Linked DNA regions of Homo sapiens: region 1 is linked to region 2. Evidence: fine-mapped expression QTL. A gene starts in region 2. The other region holds a variant in brackets. All regions are shown on one strand. Distances are from middle to middle. Region 1 holds the start of LOC124904577 (a long non-coding RNA gene). Region 2 holds the start of ZNF672 (zinc finger protein 672).

The links.
Region 1: its variant is fine-mapped to the expression of ZNF672 in whole blood (TOPMed, PIP above 0.99).

What each region holds. Positions count from the first base shown.
Region 1 is chr1:248,801,565-248,809,898 of GRCh38, forward strand. LOC124904577 (a long non-coding RNA gene) reads right to left here and starts at 5,954. Exons shown (of 2, transcript XR_007067008.1): 1 at 5,485-5,954. RefSeq lists enhancers at 1,081-2,280, 3,689-3,898. The variant A/G (reference allele first, on the strand shown) is at 3,717.
Region 2 is chr1:248,833,731-248,842,064 of GRCh38, forward strand. ZNF672 (zinc finger protein 672) reads left to right here and starts at 4,494. Exons shown (of 4, transcript NM_024836.3): 1 at 4,494-4,821. RefSeq lists enhancers at 4,428-4,929, 4,930-5,429, 5,127-5,396, 5,737-5,816 and a silencer at 4,437-4,836.

The DNA of each region.
Region 1 (8,334 bases), 32 kb before region 2:
TCAATTGACATTTGGGTTGCTTTTACCTCTTAACTATTGTGAATAATACTGCTTCAATATGGGTGTGCAAATATTTCAAGAGTCTGTTCTCACATTGCTATAAAGAAATACCTGAGACTGGGTCATTTATAAAGAAAAGAGTTTTAATTGGCTCGTAGTTCTGCAGGCTATACAGGAAGCATAGTGGTTTCTGCTTCTGCGGAGGCCTCAGGAAGCATCCAATCATGGCAGAAGGCAATGGGGGAGCAAGGCCAGGTGACTTGCTTTGGCCAGTGAAAGGTGAGTGAAGGGACAAGTCTTGGGACCCCTGTGCACTGTTTGCCACATCCCTTCCACCTGCCGGAAAGATGAGGTTCTCAAACTCCAGGGTACACTAGAATCACTCTAGGGGTTTGTTGAAAGCTGCTGGGGTCCACTCCCAGCATTTCTAATGCAGTATTGCTGTGGGCAGAGGAGTGGAGGTAGGGGGCTGAGAATTTGCATGTCTAACAAGTTTCTGGTGATGTTTATATTGTTGATCTAGAGAACACATTTTAGGAACTAGAGTCATAGAAGGATCCTCCCTGGGCCAGGGTCTCTGAGTGATACCTTCCTATTGAACCATGTTTAAGATGAAGGTTGGGTGGGGAATAAACATTTTTCTGTTCCCATTTCACTGTGGGATTTTGATGTTTATAGGTGAAAGAACATATCCCACACAGAAGCATAAATCTCTCACAACCAGCAGGACCTCGAGAAAGAAACACCATTTTGATTAGAGGGGCTTTAGTTTTCCCTGGGCTCCAGGTACACAAATCCACACGGAATTAATGGTGCAGAGCTGTAGAGAGGCTCTCAGCCATGTCCTAAGGCACATTCTCCTCAGTCCTCTCCCACCTGGTACATAGGATACCTACTTCCAGGGGGAAATCCAAGATTTCCTGGGAAGACAACTCCTTTCCCCTGTGCCTTCCACGGGTCCTGCCTATAGCTTGAGTTCACTCACAGAATCTGGTTTCCTATTGTTGGATATCAAACACTGTTGGAGCCAACAGAGGGTGGGACCTGTCTGAAACAAGACTCATCAGTGATCTTCCTGATCAGAGCCATAAACCTCTGGCCGGCAGTCAGCTGAAGGATTCAGGCAGCACTGGGAACAGCCACTTCACCTAGGAACTTGGAGATAGGTCAAGATAAGGAGGGCTGTAAATCTAACTCGGGCTCAGCTAGAGTCCTGGCACGTATGAGTATCATTTGTGCTACCAGCCCGGTCACCTACGAGGCATTCCTCTTCTTGTCTCTGATGTCCCGGTCACCTACGAGGCTTTCCTCTTCTCATCTCTGATGTCCCGGTCACCTACGAGGCTTTCCTCTTCTCATCTCTGATGTCCCGGTCACCTACGATGCTTTCCTCTTCTTGTCTCTGATGTCCCGGTCACCTACGAGGCTCTCCTCTTCTCATCTCTGATGTCCCGGTCACCTACGAGGCCTTCCTCTTCTTGTCTCTGATGTCCCGGTCACCTACGAGGCTCTCCTCTTCTCATCTCTGATGTCCCGGTCACCTACGAGGCCTTCCTCTTCTTGTCTCTGATGTCCCGGTCACCTACGAGGCTCTCCTCTTCTCATCTCTGATGTCCCGGTCACCTACGAGGCTTTCCTCTTCTCATCTCTGATGTCCCGGTCACCTACGAGGCTTTCCTCTTCTCATCTCTGATGTCCCGGTCACCTACGAGGCTTTCCTCTTCTTATCTCTGATGTCCCGGTCACCTACGATGCTTTCCTCTTCTTGTCTCTGATGTCCCAGTCACCTACGAGGCTTTCCTCTTCTCATCTCTGATGTCCCGGTCACCTACGAGGCCTTCCTCTTCTTATCTCTGATGTCCCGGTCACCTACGAGGCTTTCCTCTTCTTGTCTCTGATGTCCCGGTCACCTACGAGGCTTTCCTCTTCTCATCTCTGATGTCCCAGTCACCTACGAGGCCTTCCTCTTCTCGTCTCTGATGTCCCGGTCACCTACGAGGCTTTCCTCTTCTCATCTCTGATGTCCTGGTCACCTACGAGGCTTTCCTCTTCTCGTCTCTGATGTCCTGGTCACCTACGAGGCCTTCCTCTTCTCGTCTCTGATGTCCCGGTCACCTACGAGGCTTTCCTCTTCTTGTCTCTGATGTCCTGGTCACCTACGAGGCCTTCCTCTTCTTGTCTCTGATGTCCCGGTCACCTACAAGGCCTTCCTCTTCTTATCTCTGATGTCCCAGTCACCTACGAGGTTTTCCTCTTCTCATCTCTGATGTCCCAGTCACCTATGAGGCTTTCCTCTTCTCGTCTCTGATGTCCCTCCCTCCAGCGTGTATTTTCACGTCTCTCCTCGTCTCTGCTGCTTCACTTTTGTCACTTTCTCCAAGTCTTTTGGGTTTGTCTAGCTGCAGATGTTTTCTCTCATCCTCATCATTTATGCTTCCAGATCAGTTTTCCTGTCATTCTTATTCAGCTTTTATCTCTGTCACATTCTCTCTGAAAGTGTCGTTAAATATATATACATATGTATGTATATACATTTTTTTTTTTGAGACGGAGTCTCACTCTGTCACCCAGGCTGGAGTGCAGTGGCGCGATCTCAGCTCACTGCAAGCTCCGCCTCCCAGGTTCACGCCATTCTCCTCCCTCAGCCTCCTGAGTAGCTGGGGCTACAGGTGGACGCCACCAAGCCCGGCTAATTTCTTGTATTTTAGTGGAGAAGGGGTTTCGCCATGTTGCCCAGGCTGGTTGCCAACTCCTGAGCTCAGGTAATCCGCCCGCCTCAGCCTCCCAAAGTGCTGGGATTACAGGCGTGAGCCACCGTGCCCGGCCCTAAATATATTTTTAACCAACCCAGAAAAAATTAAAAAGTATATCCCAGGTGGCAGGTGAACTAAATACCTGGTTCACTTTATTTAACCTCGGGTTTGTTTTTGTTAGTGTTATGAAGACGTAGCTCCCCTCCTCCTAAGGCCTCATGCCCTTTTCTGTTAACAGTCCCTTCCAATGGGGCAGCCATGGTCACTATTGCCAGATGCAACTGTTTGAGGGAATGGAGAGGATTGTAATCTGAGGCTTCTGAAATTGTAAAGTGAAAGAGGAGATCTGGTAAAAGGGGCGAAGATCAGCTGAAGGAAGGTCAGATGTGAGTACAGCAGCAACGGTTACATTCCCACCCTGGGCTGCAGAGGCAGGTGGGCTGCAGAGGCAGGTGGGCTCCTGGCCTCTCTCTCCAAGTGGAGTGGGAGGCTGAAACCATAGCAACACTGAGGTTAGCACACAAGGCAGGTGACATTAAGCAACATCCTCTCCTTCTTCCCTAAACCACAGCAGCCCCTGCGAACCTGTACAGCTCCATGAGCCTCCTCCAGCCTTCACTGCTGCCCCAGGCCCCCAGGCCCTTAAGAATTCCTGCTGGAAAAAAGCAGGCCGTGGCACAACTGAGATTTCCTTGTGTCAGTGTGAAGATGATCCAGCTCTTCTGCATGTTATTGCAGAAATCATAGAGACGAAACAGGATGGGGTGGCCTGGAAGGAGCATGGAAGATGAAGCCGCAGCTGAGGAAGAAGGCAGCTCTGCTGCTCCACTCTACCCTAGACCAAGAAGGTTCCTCTTTTCTAAATGGGGAAGAAACTCATTTTGACACTCCCTTCCTCCTATGTTTGAATAAATCAAGAAGCGTATCTGCACTGTGCAGTGAAAGCCACCTGCCTGCCTGGAG[A/G]AAGAGAAACTACTGCCCAGCACTCTGAGCTCTTCGACCTCTGGACGATGATCATCTCACACCCAAGCAGAAATATCCAGCAGCCCTCTGCTCCCTCCGGGCTGGGTCCTAACCAACTCTGGACTTGCTCAGGTTTCTCATGCTCCAACCCCTAACCCTGTCTGCAAACACATGCACCATTTCACATCATCCATCAGAACTCTTCGCATGGCCCAGCCTCCACTGCCAGCTGTATAATTTTAGTGCTTTAGATAACCTTAGAGGTTATCTACTGAGTCTGTCCACACTTCCGGCAGATTGGAACACTGAGGCCCAGAGGAGCTGAGTGAATTGTCCCTGTGCACATAACCCCTTGTGGCAGGGGCAGGCCAAGGGCAACCCTCTCTGAATAGTGTGGTCAGTGTTTTTAACACCGAAGCTCTCAAAAGAACTAATGTTTACTGAGCACCTAGAATGAGGGTGACCATATGTCCTAGATCACCCAAGTCAGTCCCAGGCCACACCTGCCCCCTTTCACACTCAGCTGTCCCAATTTAGACTATGCATCACGTATGGTCCCTGTACATATGTCTATTGTGTTATGTGTTGAGTGAGATGGAGTCAAGGATGATACTGACCCCTTCTTCTGAGGACTTAGGACCAACAAGAGACATGTCTACAACAACCGGCCCATTCTTCAGTAAGTCAAAAGAGCCATGGGGAACTTGAGAGTGATAAGGATTAATTCAGACTGGGCTAGAGAGGTGCCTGTGGTTGAATCCCAGCTCATGTGGACTTTTGACCACATGATCTGGTCCTCAAACCACAGGCAGCAGTTTGACAGTTTGAGAAGGGAGGAAACTTGTGCCAAGGGTAGCACAAGCAGAAGTAAGTCAGTAGACAGCTGTTTGGTGAAAATTTCCACATTCCAGGTCCTGAGAACACCAAGATGGGTGAGACACAGGCCCTGGGAGCTCAAGACAGATTTGGGAAGAGTGAGGATTGGGAGCCAGGCACCACTTCTCCAGTCTGAGACCAAGGGGCTGGTTCAGAGCTTCGGAGAGCAATGCCCAGCTGTAACCTCCCAGATTTTTCCTTGACTGCAGCCCTCATTAGTTATTTATTTACTTATTTTTAGAAATAGGTTGTCCCTCTGTCACCCATTCTGAAATAGTGGTGTGATCATAGCTCACTGCAGCCTCAAACTCCTGGGCTCAGGAGATCCTCCCACTAGCCTCAGGAGTAGCTAGGACTACAGGTGCATGCCATCACGCATTGCTAATTTTTTTACTTTTTGTAGAGTCGGGTTCTCACTATGATGCTGAGGCTGGCCTCAAACTTGGTCCTCAAGTGAGCCTCCCACCTTGGCCTTCCAAAGCATTGGGATTACAGCTGTGAGCCATTGCTCCTGGCCTGGTTATGTATTTTTCACTGCCCTGCACCACCTGTGCACACCTGCATTCCTTACCTGGAAGACCCACCCATGGCATTACAGTTTATAGTGTTCCTAACAAGGCCTACCACAGTGTTTGTACACTGAAAGATCCTGGTGAACATTTCTTAGTAAACTACACATATCCATTTGCCAGCCAGTGTATGGTCTCCTGGTTCCCTTATCCCAGGGCATGAGCAATGTGTTGCAGCCTGGGGCTCAGGAATGGTGAGCAGGCGTGGGTGGAGAAATTTATAAAGAGGCTGTGGAAAGGGAGAGGGAAAAGACACTAGGGAGGCCAAGGAAGGAGGTGAGCTCTGAGGAGAACAGGGTACATCTACATATCGAACATCTTACCTCCTGAGACCAGCTGCGCTGCAGACTTGAGCCAGCTCTCACACGCAATAGGTGATTCCGAGGACACACGGGAATGCAAGAGGCCCATGACAAGTACAAATAGGGTTCCATTCTGATGTATACACACCCCCACCCTTCTATGTGCAGTTTTTCAGGCCCTTCTGCAAAGTGCCCATGAGGCTGACCACGCAGGCTTGGAGGGTCAACACGCAGTGCGCGCAGGGAAATGCAGAGCCCAGGCTCTGCGCACTTTCTGGTAGCTGCTGCCCCCTGCTGACACAGCAAGACCTTGACAGCCCAAGAAGGTCATCTCCGCTCTTCCTGCCAGGCAGAGTAGGAGCATCTACAGATGGGTTGATTCCACACCCCACAAATACGTACAATTACAATATGTCAATTTTAAAAGATGTCTAAAGGCTGGAAGCATAACCAGGCATGGTGGCTCATGCCTGTAATCCCAGCAATTTGGGAGGCCGAGGTAGGGGGATCGTTTGAGCCCAGGAGTTTAAGACCACCCTGGGCAACACAGGGAAACCCCGCCTCCAAAATAATCCAAAAATTAGCTGGGCATGGTGGGACACACCTGTAGTCCCAGCTACTTGGTAGGCTGAGGTGGGAGGATCTCTTGAGCCGAGAAGGTCGAGGTTGCAGTGAGCCAAGATCACATCACTGCACTCCAGCCTGGGCTAGAACGAGTGTCACAAAAACAAACAAAAAAAAAGGCAAAGAGCAGTGGTTCAAGCCTGTAATCCCAGCACTTTAGGTCAAGGAGGGAGGACTGCTTAAGTCCAAGAGTTCAAAACCATTTTGGGCAACACTGCAATACATCTCTACAGAGAAAAAAAAAATTAAGTTAAAAATTAGCGGGGTATGGTGGTGTGCATCTGTGGTCGTAGCTACTAGGGAAGCTGAGACAGAAAGATTGCTCGAGCCCAGGAGTCCCACGCCGCAGTGAGTTATGATTGCACCACTGCACTCCAGTCTGAGCAACAGCGCAAAACCCTGTCTCATAATAAAATAAATATTAAAAATTAAATTTTTAAAAAGGCAGTGGGGTTGTCATGCTTGTCAAAAATCATATCCAGATGAGGAGGGAAACACAACCCTTTCATAGAGTCCACTTGCCTAGCGCAAGATGGGATGAAGCCTCCGTGAGTTAAGCACTCCGAGGCTGTGAAGAGGTGCTAACAGGAATCGCTGCACCTCAGATCCACTGATGTAGCAGCATGCCACACATGCCTCTATGCTCCCATTTTATAGGCGATAAAATTGAAGCGTCATGAAATTTGAGAATTCCCATAGAGATGTGATCCTGGGATTGTGCATCACCAGGTCCTGACCTCCAAACTGCTGTACTGATAAACCCACCTGATACAGCTGTGGGCTAAGAGAAGGGGCAAGAAGCAAAAGCACATTTCCTGAGCATCTGTTGGTGAGAGCCTGTGTCAGGTGTTGGGTAGACTGAGGCCCCAGCCCCACACTTGAGGAAGATGAAGATCAGAACAATTCATTACCAACAGGCCAATGTAACATGTAACATGACACAGTACAGGAATGGGGGATGGGGCCCTATGTCCCCCACACCTTGACCATCTCTTCCTCACCTTAAACAAAATTTCTCGACCCTCTTTGCTGGGAGAAGGAGCTAAGAAACAGTATTCCCACTTCTCATCTCTTCTTCCCAGCAAAACTTCCTCGGAGATGACTACCTCCACTTCCTCACCTCCTGTTCCTGTGAGCCCAGTGGTTCAAGCGTTTGGACTCTAGAGTCCAAGTGCCTAGTGGGAGCCGCCTCCGTTACCTTCAGCAAGGCTGAGTACCCCCCATTGTGCCTTATTTTCTTACCGTGGAAAGGAAATCATAGTGTTTATCTGTCCTATAACATTGTTGTAGAGATTAATTAGGGGCGTTCCTGGTACGTGAAATGCACTGGATGAGTACAAGTTACTACAACGAGGGTGGGAGGGAGGGAGCTCTTCGGCTTCTGTCTTCTTCTCCTTAGAAGTACCATTGGCTCTAACCTTCCTGGTCTCTCTTCCCGCCTGCCGCATCTTCTAGGTGATTTTGCAAGGAGAAACGCACGTGCATGGCATAGCCCTTCTTTTCTAGGGCTCTTCTGTACCAGGAGCCTCACAGGTCCTGCCTGCCAGTGACTGGGTAGGGAAGTCCAGCACTGTGTGTCATCTCAGAAAGCCCTTCATTAGGACTATAATACTGTATTATAGACTGAAAATTTGCTGAGAGTAGATTTTAGGCGGTTTCACAACAAAAAAGGGGGGAGGTAACTGCAAAATGATAGGCCAATTTGATACCTATTTCATTATGTGCATCAAAATACCATGTTGTTCACCTCCTATACATACAATTTAAAAAATTTAAAAAGCCCACTCACCCAAAAACATATGCTATGCATTTTCATAGCAGCTTTTCTAGTAATAAAATATTATGACACCCATCTGCCAAGTCAGGGAAGGCAATCTCAAACTCCTGGACAGCACCCATCCAAAGGCACAGTGAGTGCTCAGCACATAGCGGCCCCAGATGGCCCCTCAGATGGCGTCCACAGCCACCAGGGTCACTGCTCTGATTGCGTGCCTCCAATTCTTGGCCTTCACCCTGCCCCTTGACCCCAAGGTTTCTGGTCTTCCTCCCTGCCAGCACCTTCTTCTTCCCTTGGCTGACCTCTTCTCAACAAAACTCCAAATACTGGTACACTCCAAGTGCAGCTCAGGCTAAACAAAGCCTTTTGCTCTTCTTCAAAGCTCCTGGAGTTCACATCCCTATCCAATCTCCCACCTGTGAGTTCAAGTGCCCTCAAACCCCTCCCATCCCCCAGCCAGTCAAGCCCTG
Region 2 (8,334 bases):
TTTTGTGCTATTCCAATTTTATCTACTTTACTATAGCTCTTCACAATTAGTTTACCTGTACAAATGTAAAAATAATTAAAGTAGCATTCTCTCCGATGGAATCGTGTTTGAGCCCTTGAAGTTGACCACAGACTGTAAGCAGCACAAACTCCAATAATTTTCTATTAAGATTACTGTTTAAAAGACATTAAATCCTCTGTGTCAAGCCATTAAGATTAATATGTGTGTTATTGATTCAATTTATGTTTTTGCTTATCTTCTTGTTTCCTGAAATCCATTTTGATATGGCTTTACAATATGTTTGCAACTTGCAATTAATACAAACCCTTATTCCTTAAACACTAAATAAAATCTTCATTTCAGGATTTAGTCAGCCAGTCTTTCCAGATCTTATTATTCTAAATTGTTAGATTTCACTTTTCTGTACTTGGTTCTTTCCTGTATTTGAAAACTGTGTCAGTTGACATCTGTGGAATTATTCGGGGAAGAACTGGAAGCTACCATGCTCTAGAAGCCAATATTTTTATTGTAACTGAAATTAGAATGTTTGAAGAATGGCAAACATTGTATTTAGCAATACAGGAATAAGATTCATGAAATTGAAACAGTCTTCTCAGTCCTTATACCCCCAGTAACACAGTAAGCCTTCAGCATCTGATTTTTGGCATTGTGAATATCCACTGGGCTCACATTTCAGACAGGGATTTGAAATAGTGGTCTATACCTTAGCCCTACTTACTTGCCTTTCAGTTGCCCCCAACAGCAACGTAAGCCATGTACTATGTGCCTGCTCTGCATGCCTATAACTTTTACTTCCCTTCCTTTCTGTCTCACTTCATAAACCACTGACAGTGCCCTCTAGCCAAACATAACCACCTTGATGCTGTTTGACTTACTTCAGCATTGGACATTGTCCACCACTTCCTCACATGGGAATCTAAAACCTGACCGTGTCCTGACCTTCTTCCTCCCCAAAGCCTTTACTGGCTTCCCCTTCTGCAGCTGCTTCCTTTTGGAGGCTGGTGCTCTAGGTATGGTGCCTTCAGCCCCTACTAATCCACCTATAGCCTCTTAGAAATGTCATCCACGCCCACGGCTTCGCGTATTCGCCTCTAACTTCCTAGTCTTTACAAATCCTGATACACCATGGCTCCTCCTCTTCTCACTGAGGGAGGCCTACACCCTTGGGTATGGGATAGACTCTATACTGTAAAGGAACATAATTTATTCATCTCTATATTTCTATTACCCAGCCAGGTGCAGACTCAGTGGGTCCTCAATAAAAGCTTCTGAAAAGGAGGAATTCCTTGATTTAGCCCAAAACTTATTTGCATTTCCTCTTCCAATACCTTCACCCACTCTACCTTCTTGAATTCCTGTCCCACCCCACTCAGCATCTTCCACAGGATTCTGAGCCTCCTCCACTCACTCAGTCTGGATTGAGTGCATGCTCACTCCCTTCCTGTTCATCTAATCCCTCTGCCTGACCCAGTCCCATCACTTATATTGCAGAAATCTGCCACTGGGGGTGTGTGGTGGGAGGTGAAAATCATTGTCACCTCCATCCACAGATCCCTATACAAAATCTTGGCTACATGCTGAGCCAATGAAGTTTACTGATGACCTATTGCAGAATTACCCTATTCTTCCTGTTGTACCTTTATACCACTTTGTACTTTGCACATGATGGGATGGCAAGGTCTGTGGGCGGGGGGAGCGGTTGCCATCCCTCAGCATGTCCTCAAAGGACTCAGTCTCCATTTTGTCTCCGATACTCAGCCCATTTCTTTGCACATAGCAGGTGTTCAGAAATGTGCATCCAGCCTCTGACTCTGCCCTCAAGCTTATAATTTAGTAGGAGAAATAAAGTATGCACATTATTCTAAAGTACATGGTGGCCAGGCATGTTGGCTCTTGCCTGTAATCCTAGCACTTTTGGAGGCCGAACACAGCAGATCACTTGAGGCCAGGAGTTCAAGACCAGCCTGAGCAACATGGTGAAACCCCATGTGTACTAAAATTACAAAAATTAGCCAGGCATGTTGGTGCGTGCCTGTAGTCCCAGCTCTTTGGGATGCTGACACACAAGAATCACTTGAACCTGGGAAGCGGCTTCAGTGGGCCGAGATCATGCCACTGCACTCCAGCCTGCGTGACAGAGCAACACTCTATCTTGAAGTACATGGTAAAGGATGTAAATAACAGAGTAAGTGTCTTATGCATCTTGTGGCTTGCAAAGATAATAAATACTTAGGGAATTTCTGGGTGAACAATACTAGTGGTCTTCAGAAAGAAGATAGTTTTCACTTTGAGAGTGGGTTGGTGTTTGAACAGAAGTCTGAAGGATAAGTAGGACTTTGGTAGACAAGAAAAAGTGAAGGAACAGGAGAAGTGTATGCCAAGCTGAGAGAAACGTAGAAGGTAGGTGGGGAGTGATCCAGTTTAATGGAGAGTTTAAGAGAACAGACTGGAAAGACAGGTTGGAATAGGTGAAAGAGGGTCTTGAATATTACACCAGAAGAGTAAACTTCATTTGGTGATTGTACAGACTTTTTTGACTATTACTGAGCAGGAATGTGATACAATCAGAACTTTGGGGAGATTCATCTGGTAGGTTCACAGCTGTTATCTCCAACGTCTAGAATACTACCTGGCATATAGTAGACCTTCCATAAACATTTTGAGTATTTACAGAACCACATTAAGAGTTGTCATTTATTGATGTAGATGTGTAGAGAAATAAAACCATTTGGATGTGATATTTTTAATTGACAAATATACACATAACTTCATCCTTGAACTTTCTTTCACTACCCTCCATCTTCCTGTTACAATTATCATCCCCCACTGTGATGACTTCCATAACATAGGAAACCTAAATCCAGCTTCCTGTTCTTTCCCCCCATTGTTTGAGTTTTTCCCTCCAAAGCTACACAGAAGAAAGTCATCTAATCCAGTCCTCTTTCACATGAAAGTTTGTTAGAATTTGTGTACAGTCATTATGTGCACAAAAAATGTTTCTCTTTCTAGGTTAAATATCCCCAGCCCCTTTAATTATGTGACCACCCTAGTCACCATCCTCTTCATGTCTCTGGGATTAGCCAAGTGTGTCAGTGTCCTTAAAAACATGACATCAGTACTGAGCAATGAGTCCAGAAATGTCTAAATTAGTACATTTCTCTGGCTTAAAGACTCTGGAAATATCCTCAACTAATCATTCTCTATATAATACTACCTTATCTGTGTATGATTCTTTACAATAAAAATATATATACTTCAAGCGCATTTTCCATGTCTCTCTCAATGTTATCCCTTCCTGGTTCAGGCCCTGATCACTCCAGACCTGCATCCTGTGTCTTGCTTTTCAGCTTTCTTGCCTGCTGCTACCAGATTTGTCTTCCTTAATCCGTGTTGTCATATGCGGGTCAGCAAACACTCATTGATCATCTGTGGCGTGCTGGCCCTCTGCTCATGCTTCAAGGGATCAATTGTTCATGAGTAGGACAAGGCCTGTCCCTTAAGCTATGGGGGAACAGTATTCATCTGACTATAACAACAGTATCAACATGCGGGAGGTTGCGCTGCAGCATAGATATGTCCCCAGGACTGAGGACAGAGAGGGGCATTCTAGCATAGGTTTATGGAGATGGCATTTGACTAAGGTTTTACAAATTAAAACAGAGAAGAGGGTAAGAGTTTTCCAGGCCAAGCATGGCAGGTCGAAGTACACTAATTAGGGGACCCCCTGAGCAGAGCTCAGAAGAGTGGTACTAAGTGACCTCCAAAGGAAGATTACAGCAGTAAAGGACCTTGAGGGCCATCCCTGGGCGTCTGTTCTGATGATATAGGCACACTAAAGGATGGCCAGGTTCCCAAAATGCATTTCCGGAAAGGAATACTAGTAGCATTTCCTAGTAGAAGACATTAGGGTCAACATTTGGACAGGCAGTTCAACCAGGAAGCTCATGGAGAGGCAGCTGGCAAGCCGACCAGGAGTAACCCCTATCCCTGGCATTGCGACTTTGGGCGTATCATTAACTTGTGGGGTCCTTACCTAAAATACAGGATAAATGCTCATATTTCCCCTGGCAGGGTTGTGGTGAGGGTTGAGAGATAATAGCTATCCAGTCTGGCCTCACTTAATAAGAAGGCGCTAACTTAACTACGGGGATGGCTGCCGCGGCCCCGTCCGCGCCGGGCACCGGCTACCGCGCCGGAAGCACCGAAGGGTACACCTGTCTGTGTCCCGCCAGCGGCCGCGGGAAGAGCTGCTGGAAGACTAGACGGTGGACCGCCTAGCTCCCGGGACTCCGCGGCTGGGGGCTGAGGCGCGCGCAGGGATCGGCGCCCTTTCCTCTGATTGGGCGGGACGAGGCCCAGGGGTGGGCCAACAGACAAAGCGGGAGGCAGGAATTGGTTAAGCCAGAAGAGAGGGCGGGGCCTTGGCCCGCGCGGGAGGCGGGAGTGGAGTCCCCCCGCAGGCTTTCTCTTTTAGCCCCGCCTGCTTCCCGGCTCCAGCTGGGGCCGGAGAGGCTGAGTGGTTGGTACGCTGCTCGCTGGCCTCCCAGTCTTCCCAGCAACCGGTGACACTGCCCGCGCCAGACTGACCACTAGCCGACGCGGGCGAGAGGGACAGGAGCGTGACCTCCCCATCCCGAGGGGCCGGACGCTCGGGCGCCTCCCCGCTCCCCCCACTCGGAGGCCGCGCGCGCCGTTAGCCCCTTCCTCGCTCCCCCGCCCCAGTCCCGCAGTCCGGGAGGCGGGGGTCGGCAGCCGGCTGAGTGGGAACCGCGCGGTGTCTGAGGAGGCAGTCGGCGACCGGTGAGGGGACTGAAGGGCAGGGGAGGGCAAGGGTGGCTCGGGGCAGCAGTCCTCAGCTGTGGCTAGTCTTCTCCCATCTGCCTCGGGCGACTGGTGTCTGCGGCGGTCGGGAGCGCCGCCCGGGCTGCGAGTGACGCGGGGATACTGCGGGGCGAGCGATTGGCCGGACACGTCCGCGCGGCCTGCTCCTCCCAGGCCTTCCCCTCCGCCTGTCCTCGCTGGTCCGCCTCGGGTGACCTTTTCGGGGCTGGCGTCACCACGACAAACGTCGCCAGGCTGAGCCGACTTAAGGGGGCAACGGCCGCCACCGGGTTCTGGCAGCGTTAAACGTTCCCCACTACGTTTTTGGTGCCCGGTCTCGCCCTCCAAGTCGGCTGGCGCCACGGGCAAGGGGCTAGGGTAGGCTCGGGGTTGGGAAGGGGCTCGCTCAAAGAAAGTTTGCCCAGCAACTTGTGACGCGCGCCGACTGAGGCGCCCCAGGATTGGCTGCGCTGCTGTGGGCCACGGAAAGCGACCTGTTCAGGTGCCGTGTTCCGCATTCGGCGAATAGTTGTGCTTCGCTCTTAAGTACCAGGCACCAAGTCCCCAGATGAGTAGCCAGCTTCCCTTCTTTCATCTTGGAGCCCACAGTTCGCGCAAGTGGAGCTATGGAAGGCCCATGCTGTGCTGTTCTAATCATGTGAGGGATTCTTAGGGGTTGAGGGGGAAGGACTGAAAACGGCTGCAGACCGTTTAGGATGCCTGGAGTGGAGACAGGAGTTAAGCCCCTTACTCAGAGTCGCTCTTAAGAACTGCCCAGGGCCGGGCACAGTGGCTCATGCCTGTTATCCTAGCACTTTGGGAGGCCAAAGTGGGAGGCTCTCTTGAGCTCGGGAGTTCAAGACCAGCCTGGGCAACATGGTGAGAACCCTCGTCTCTACAAAAAAAATAATGATAATAATAATTAGCCGGGTGTGGTAGCACCTGCTCATAGTCCCAGCTCCGCAGGAGGCTGAGGCTGGAGGGTTGCTTGAGTCCAGGAGGGCGAGGCTGCAGTGAGACAGTGATCAAATCACTGCATTCCAAGCTGGGTGACAGCAAGACCCTGTCTCAAAAAACAAACAAACAACAACAACAAGAAGGACTGTCCTAGGCAGAGTAAATCCTAAGCACCGGGCAACCGCAATTCTCAGTGTTAGCAATTTTTTTTTTTTTTTTTTTTTTTTGAGACGGAGTCTTGCTCTGTCGTCCAGGCTGGAGTACAGTGGCGCGATCTCGGCTCGCTGCAACCTCCGCCTCCTGGCCTCAAGTGATCCTCCCACCTCACCCTTCCCAGTAGCTGAGACTACAGACGGGCGCCACCACACCTGGCTGATTTTTGTATTTTTCGTAGAGACAGGGTTTCACTGTGTTGGCCAGGCTGGTCTCGAGCTCCTGACCTCAAGTGATCCGCCCGCCTTGGCCTCCCAAAGTGCTGGGATTACAGACGTGAGCCACCATGCCCGGCAAGATTTAGCAATATTTTGACCTTTCCATATGAAACACTATAATAATAGCTTTTTTTAATTTATTTTTTTGAGATGGAGTCTCACTCTGTCGCCCAGGCTGGAGTACAGTGGCACTATCTCGGCTCACTGCAACCTCTGCTTCTCGGGTTCAAGCGATTCTCCTGCTTCAGCCTCCCGAGTTAGCCAATACTACAGGCGCGTGCCACCATGCCTGGCTACTTTTTTGTATTTTTAGTAGAGACGGGGTTTCACCATATTGGCCAGGCTGGTCTCGAACTCCTGACCTCAGGTGATCTGCCCACCCCGGCCTCCCAAAGTGCTAGGATTACAGGCGTGAGCCACCGTGCCTGGCCAACTTTCTTTACTAAAGTTTTCCCATCCAGGAGGATCAGACATTCCAAGTCTACTGTCTAAGATCAGACAGCTAGTAATGGGAGGAACCAGAATTTGGATGCCTCTCTGGTTCTGCTACACAGGTTGCAGGCTCAACTAGTAAACCAAAGCAGAATATTTGTATGTGCAGTGCACAGTGCTGTGGAGGATATGATGACTGTAGTCAGAGTATTTGTATGTGCAGTGGATAGTGCTGTGGAGGATATGATGACTGCAGTCAGAGTACTTGTATATGCAGTGGGTAGTGCTGTGGAGGATATGATGACTGTAGTCAGAGTATTTGTATATGCAGTGGGTAGTGCCATGGAGGGTACGATGACTGTAGTCATAGTATTTGTATGTGCAGTGGGCAGTGCCGTTCAGGGTACGATGACTGTAGTCAGAGTATTTGTATGTGCAGTGGGTAGTGCTGTGGAGGATATGATGACTGCAGTCAGAGTACTTGTATATGCAGTGGGTAGTGCTGTGGAGGATATGATGACTGTAGTCAGAGTATTTGTATGTGCAGTGGGTAGTGCTGTGGAGGGTACGATGACTGTAGTCATAGTATTTGTATGTGCAGTGGGCAGTGCCGTTCAGGGTACGATGACTGTAGTCAGAGTATTTGTATGTGCAGTGGGCAGTGCTGTGGAGGATATGATGACTGTAGTCAGAGTACTTGTATGTGCAGTGGGTAGTGCTGTGGAGGGTACGATGACTGTAGTCAGAGTATTTGTATGCAGTGGGTAGTGCTGTGGAGGATATGATGACTGTAGTCAGGCCCTTTCCTCCAGGGACCTAACATTTGGGAAAATTGGATTCCAGACTAATACATCACTTTTAAAAAGCACTGAGTATCTTCTGTGTGCCCAAGTCCTTGCTAGGCCCAGGGAAGGTGTGAAAGACCTTATAGTCCTTTCTCTCTGATCTGGGGGGCTCTGGCCACTCTGGGCTTCAATGTTGCCTGTGTCTCAGAAGGACAGGACAAGCTCCCACTATGTATGTTCTCTCCTTGTCTACATCCTGTTGCCTGTGTCTCAGAAGGACAGGACAAGCTCCCACTATGTATGTTCTCTCCTTGCCTACATCCTGTTGCCTGTGTCTCAAAAGGACAGGGCAAGCTCCCACTATGTATGTTCTCTCCTTGTCTACATCCATACCTTCTCTATACTTCCCAGATTTCACAGGAAAATCTTTGTGAAACCAAAACTTTCAAAAGAATATATTTGGGCTCGGCACGGTGGCTCACACCTGTAATGCCAGCACTTTGGGAGGCTGAAGCAGGAGGATCAACTGAGGCCAGGAGTTCAAGACCAGCCTGGGCAACATGGCAAAACCCCGTGTCTGCTAAAAATACAAAAATTAGCTGTGGTAGCTCGAGCCTGTAATCCCAGCTGCTTGGGAGGCTGAAGCGCAAGAATCGCTTGAACCTCGGAGGCAGAGGTTGCAGTGAGCCGAGATCACACTGAGATGGCGCCACTGCACTTTAGCCTGGGAGACAGAGTGAGACTCTGCCTCCAAAATAAAAAGAATGTGTTGGCTCATGATCAGACTTGAGCACTTGGGCTGAGAGCAAACTGTCATTCCTATTTCCACCAGCTCCTTAGCTAGAGACTGAATCTGAAGCTGGAAGGAGCAACTTCTTTTGAAGTAT